2 separate regions of the Homo sapiens genome follow, and region 2 is linked to region 1. The links come from fine-mapping of genetic effects on gene expression. A gene starts in region 1. The other region holds a variant in brackets. All regions are shown on one strand. Distances are from middle to middle.

Region 1 (2,908 bases):
GCGCAACCACCACGCCCGGCTAATACGGCTAATATTATTTTTTCATTTTTTGGAGAGACGGGGTCTCGCTATGTTGCCCAGGCTGGTCTGGAACTCTTGGGCTCAAGGGATCCTTGTGCCTCGGCTTCACAAAGTGCTGGGATTACAGGCGTGAGCCGCCGCGCCCGGCTCTAAATAATTTCTTATCGCCCTCCCTCAGTTTGTTTTTCCTGTTATCGGGTCACCCACACATTCCACAATTGTCAAATAGGTGAGGGCACAGGTACGGAAGCGTCCCGCATTCCCTCCAGATTTTATCACGCTGAGACACAAAGAGAAAAATAGCTCCTGGCGACCGCATGAAAACCCCGATTTCAAAACAGCCACATGCAGTTTAATTTCCTTAAAAGCTTAGCCGGAAAAGGTTTCTGTGGCTTGCGACCCCAGCTGGGCTTGAGAGAAGGCTCTGCACACTGGGGCGGGGGCGGGCACAAGGTGATCGGAGGGAGGGGGATGACTCGCAGTTGTGTTTTGAGTGGTTGCCTTGGGTTATCTTGTTCCTCCAGCACACACACACTCAGTTTCTTGTCATAAGGGGAACCCTGTTATTTTGTAGACAAAAAGTGACAGAAGCAACTTTCGAAGCAAAAAAAAAAAAAAAACAAAAAAAAACAAAACCAAAAAGACGAAGAAGAAGAACAAAAGTCAACGTGAAATCTCCCCAGAGGAAAAGGAACCGCGCTGTTTGTCCCTCAGTAACTGAGCAACACCCCGGACACGAAGGGCTCCCTGTGACTTCTGCGGTTTTTCTTGCACTTCTCCGCGTTGGTTCACTTCCACCCTCGAAACTCTCCAGAAGCGAGAAATAAGGCGGGGTGGCCGCCACCCCCAGGCCACCAGCTGTGCGGGGGCCCCAGCTGCAGGGGGTCCCGGCCCAGCGTCCCTCTCGGCCCCTTCCCTCTCCCCCGGGGGAGAAGGGGCGGGTCCACGCGGCCTGGGCGCTGCGCCCGACACGCGGTAGGGGTCGCTGCGTCTCGGCGCGCGCTCCCACCGCGGTGAATAACGGGGCCTGGCTGGAGGAGAAAGGAAACCTGCTGCGGGAGGCGGCGGCGACCGGCCAGGGAGCGAGGGAGGAGAGTTCACTTTTACTTCAGTGTCAGCGCGCGGCGGCCGTGGCTGGCTCTGGCGAGAGAGCACCGAGGGAGTGGGTCGCAGATCTTCGGGCGGCTAGGGGAAATCGGCGAGAGGCGGGATCCGAGCGCGCCGGCGGGGCGCAGAGCCCGCGAGCCTGGCCAGCGAGGGTAGCCGCGGGGGGCGCGCCCCGGGCGGGCCCCCGGAGACGCGCAGGATGCCACACGAAGAGCTGCCGTCGCTGCAGAGACCCCGCTATGGCTGTAAGTGCGCCGGGCGCGCGGGGTTCCTGCTGGCCTTGGGGAGCTCCCTCCCCGAGGACGGCGTTGGAGAAGCCGAGGGAGCCGGTTGCGCGGCGCAGAGGAAATTGGAAGGCAGCAACTGCGCGGCTGGCAAAGTTGGGAGCTGGAGTTGCAAAGGGCAGTGAATCGCGTCCCCCCGCTCCTCCCGCCCCCCAATTCCTAATATCCAGCTGGCAACCCAGACCCTCCACTCCGCATACCCAAACGGGGTGCGCGGGCAGTGCGGGGATTGCGCTCTGGGACAGACCAGGTTGGGATTTTAGGGGTATCAGGTGAGGAGTCCGCGGAGCTCCGGGTCGCCGCCGGCTTGGGCCAGGGGGTGGCGTAAGGCACCGGATTCTTCCAACCCAGAAGGGGAGGAAAGTTTGTTTGCTGTGGCTACAGGTGGGCACCGCAAGTAGGGCGCCGGCGCACTCTGCTAGTGCAAAGCCGGCTTGACTGGAAGGGCGGGAGTCTCCTCCTGTCCCGCGCCCTCGAACTTCACCTGACCCGCTAGAGCCATTGGCCTCACAGGTGTAAGTCCCTCCCCTCTGAAACCCCCCAACCCCTTTCCCCCCCGCTCCCCTCGCGCGGGAGGATTGCTGTGTGGAGAGGACGCGGCACTAGGCTCCGGGGAATCCGGCGGGAGCCCGCGTGACTTGAACGAGATGGTGTCGATTACCCAGCCAGGGGCTGCCCTCGGAAATAGGTTGCTTTGGCCGATCGTGAGTGGATGGAGCCAGATTAACACCAACCACGTGGCTTCATGTGCAGAGTTCAGAGTCCTAAACATGTGCCAGGAAGCATTTCCTTTAAAACAAACAGAAAGTTGGCCTGCTGTCTCTCCAAGGTGGCCCTGTCAGTGAACCCAAGGCCGAAGACCACAGGTTAATCTTTGCCCAGGCTGGCCTTGGTGGCAGAGGTACCAGGTTTGGGTTAAGGTGGTGATACCTTCAGCAGGGTGTTTTGTTTGTGTGTGTGTGTGGTTTTGGATGGTGCGTAAGGCCACTGACTTGCTTAACTGAAAAAGGGCTCCTCAACTTGTGTAGGTTCTTTCCCCTCCTCCCCGCTGGCGTGTCAAAGATGGGAGGTTATCTTTCCTGTGTTACCCTTGCAGTGAGGGGGAGGCCTGAGGACTACAGCCTCTGTACTCTAATGCATTCAGCAGTTGACTGAGACCCAGCTTTTTGCCTTTTGGTAAACCACACAGACAGCAGAGCCTCTTGGGTTCAAGAGGGAACGCTGTGCTCATTCAGTGTTTGCAGTGCCAACCTCAGGTGGGACCCAGCTTTTTGCCTTTTGGTAAACCACAGATACAGCAGAGCCCGTTGGGTTCAAGGAGGAATGCTGTGCTCATTCAGTGTTTGCAGTGCCAACCTCAGGTTGGTGGAAGTACTTTAATGTGACCAGCTCTCAGAATATATGGTGGCTTCACTGTGTCAAATGATAAGATAACCACAAACTTCTGCAAACTAGGTGAATCTACATGAACAAATGATTTCTTGCTATCACATGAT
Region 2 (2,908 bases), 190 kb after region 1:
GTATTTCAGAAGAAGAAAGAGATGCTTATGAAGAACTGCTGACACAAGCAGAAATCCAAGGCAATATTAATAAAGTCAACAGTAAGTAATGGATCGTATGAAGGAAATTGATATTTCCGTAAGATACAGACTTTCCTTGCCAGAATCCCAACACAACTCTCAATTTGTATACTTGGAAAACTGCCTTATACAATGAAAAATCTACTCAGTGTCAGTGTTGCTCTTAATTATGGTGCAGCATTTGGCAGTTTCCCACTGGGCTTTTTTTGGTGATCTCAGTCCACACAAAGTATCCTGAAGCTAGTTTGATTCTACCTTCCTGTTTCATTACATTCCACATTTTAATTCTGTCACTTTTGGGGCTAATACTGAAGGTCATTTAGTAAAAGATTATAATTTACAGATTGTAGTTGCTTGCCCATGATTATGCGATGATGTTCTATTGGAATTGTAAAAGGTACTATTGACACCACTGCTCTCTGTGACTTCCCAGCCATTAGTCTGTTGTTTGTAAGATTTTTCTTACACTTGTGTAACTTTGGTGCCAGTGAATGGGACTATGGACAGGCCAGATGAAATCTCATGATGGCAGCTTTGAGTCCCACACCCCTGAGCCTCTGTGGAGTCAAGCAGATGAGTTCCTCTTAGTACCTGGCTCAAGTGTCTGATTGTAAAGAACAGCAGACTCAGGTAATTAAAATAAGCGTATGCAGGTTGAGATACATCAATTTTTTTATTAGTCTTTTCTCCCCTCTGGCAAAACCTATTTTTACTTGAGCATCAGAAGAGTCAGTAAGAAATTTCATTTGATGTTTATTTTTCCCTGGTCAATCTAGATAATCCATATATACCCAAAAAACTAATACATGAAAGGCCATTTAGCCTGCTTAATAAAGCATGTGAACTCCCTGCGAAATTAAAATTTGGAGTATCCACTAATTACAACAGTCCTAAACCTTGCCTTCCTTTTAACATCCTCGTTGAGTTTTGAATATTCTTTTTTGCTTGTAACTCTTGCAAAGAAGTGTACACCCACGGTGTTACTAAGAAGTCTGCTCCTAAATTGCTGGAGAGAAATATCCTAAGGGGCTCAAACAGTAATTAAGGAAAGCCCCAGAGGGTTAATGTAAATGTCTAGGAGTTAACAACTGAATGTGTTTGAGAATATGCCTCACATACACATAACTGGGCTGAAAACTCTCAATTGCCTTTATTTTTTTAAGGTAACACCTTAACATTTTAGGGTGCATGTGCCTGTTGTTTTATTCTTGTGAAATCTTGAACATGTTACTGATGATACATGAAGTACAATTTAAAGTTTGTCTTTTTGCTCTATGCGAAAGCTGAGAACTTCGTGATGCTTGACAGAAATGAATTACAGGAGGAAATTAATGTTGCCAGTGAGACATCTGAGGTCCATAAGCCTAGAGAGGAAATGGCTCCATAGCCTTTAACCATCCTTTATTTTTGAAATATTTATAACCATGAAAACAGTTTTCTTTTTCATGTTAAATAAAATGCTTTATATAAATGTTTTAGTTCTTTACTCAGTGCCATAATTTCCTGACC[G/A]CAAATTTAATGCCAAATTGGCTATACTTTTTTTTTCCATTTTTAAGTAAAAGGCATTGGATGTTTTGCACTAATGGTAAAACCGGCTGAAAATATGAAAGCAAGGTTTGATGGCTTTAAATGTGTAGAACATGATTATTCTGAAGTCTTTTTATCTCTCCCCATCTTAAAATTTATAGTCCAGTAGAACTGAAAGTAACCTTAGGAAAAAAACCCTCATTTTGATGACATGACAATGAGACAATTGTACACTTTAAAATACGTAAGAATCAGCTGGGTGCAGTGGCTCACACCTGTAATCCCAGCACTTTGGGAGGCTGAAATGGGTGGATCACGAGGTCAAGCGTTCAAGACCACCCTAGCTAATATAGTGAAACCCTGTCTCTACTAAAAATACAAAAAGTCAGCCAGGCGTGGTGGCGGGCATCTGTAATCCCAGCTACTTGGGAGGCTGAGACAGGAGAATCACTTGAATGTGGGAGGTGGAGGATGCAGTGAGCTGAGATTGCGCCACTACACTCCAGCCTGGATGATAGTGTGAGACTCCATCTCAAAAAAAATTTAAAAAAAAAAAGTAAGAATCATTACTTTGACAAGATTTTCCTCAACCATGTAGGTTATTATATTAAAATGTTAAGGCATCCACATTCATAGCAACCATAGTAATAGCATCAGTGACAATGTTGGTGGTAATGTCAACAGATCTGTTGTTAGAGGCCTCAGCTTTGTTCACATTATAACCCTTTACCTTTCAGGTTCAGCAAATGCATTCCATTCATTGCATGATATTTTCTGTTAAGATCAGAGCTGGACATTTTGCATTTCTTTGCTTTTTTTTTTTTTTTTTTTTTTTTTTTTCCGGACAGGGTCTTATTCTATTGCCCAGTCTGGTGTTAAACTCTTGGGCTCAAGTGATCCTCCTTCCTCAGCCTCCCAAAATGCTAGGATTACAGACAAAAGCTACCACACCCTGCCTGGACATTTCGTTAAATGCAGAGTGTAAAAGAGTGGTTGATCTTACCTTATTTTTTTAGAAGAAATTGTTTATTTAATAGTGTTTTTCAGGCTAGGTGCAGTGACTCATGCCTGTAATCTAGCACTTTGGGAGGCTGAGGTGGGAGGATGACTTCAGGCCAGGAGTTCAAGACCAGCCTGGGCAACAAAGAGAGACTCAGTCTTTACAAAAAAAATTTAAAAATTAGCCGGGTGTGGTGGCACACAACTGTAGCCCCAGATACTGTAGAGACTGAGGTCGGAGGATCTCCAGAGCCCAGGAGGTCGAGACTGCAGTAAGCCAAGATTGCACCACTGCACTCCAGCCTTGGCAACAGAGCAAGAC

Alleles and levels. Alleles are on the strand shown, and positions count from the first base shown. SD is a standard deviation of normalised expression in the study named.
With allele A in place of G in region 2, the expression in esophagus muscle of the gene that starts at base 1,067 in region 1 is lower (small effect, 0.16 SD a copy in GTEx).

The links. PIP is the estimated chance that this variant, and not a neighbour inherited with it, causes the effect.
Region 2: its variant is the best candidate, but not a certain one, in a credible set for the expression of IQGAP2 in esophagus muscle (GTEx, PIP 0.68).

The regions. Positions count from the first base shown.
Region 1 is chr5:76,402,219-76,405,126 of GRCh38, forward strand. IQGAP2 (IQ motif containing GTPase activating protein 2) reads left to right here and starts at 1,067. Exons shown (of 36, transcript NM_006633.5): 1 at 1,067-1,373. The coding sequence starts at 1,328. RefSeq lists silencers at 749-1,098, 1,269-1,378 and an enhancer at 1,032-1,532.
Region 2 is chr5:76,592,845-76,595,752 of GRCh38, forward strand. It overlaps IQGAP2 (IQ motif containing GTPase activating protein 2), which reads left to right. Exons shown (of 36, transcript NM_006633.5): 9 at 1-81. Among named protein-coding and RNA genes, the nearest start is that of F2RL2, 29 kb to the right of the region's middle. The variant G/A (reference allele first, on the strand shown) is at 1,570.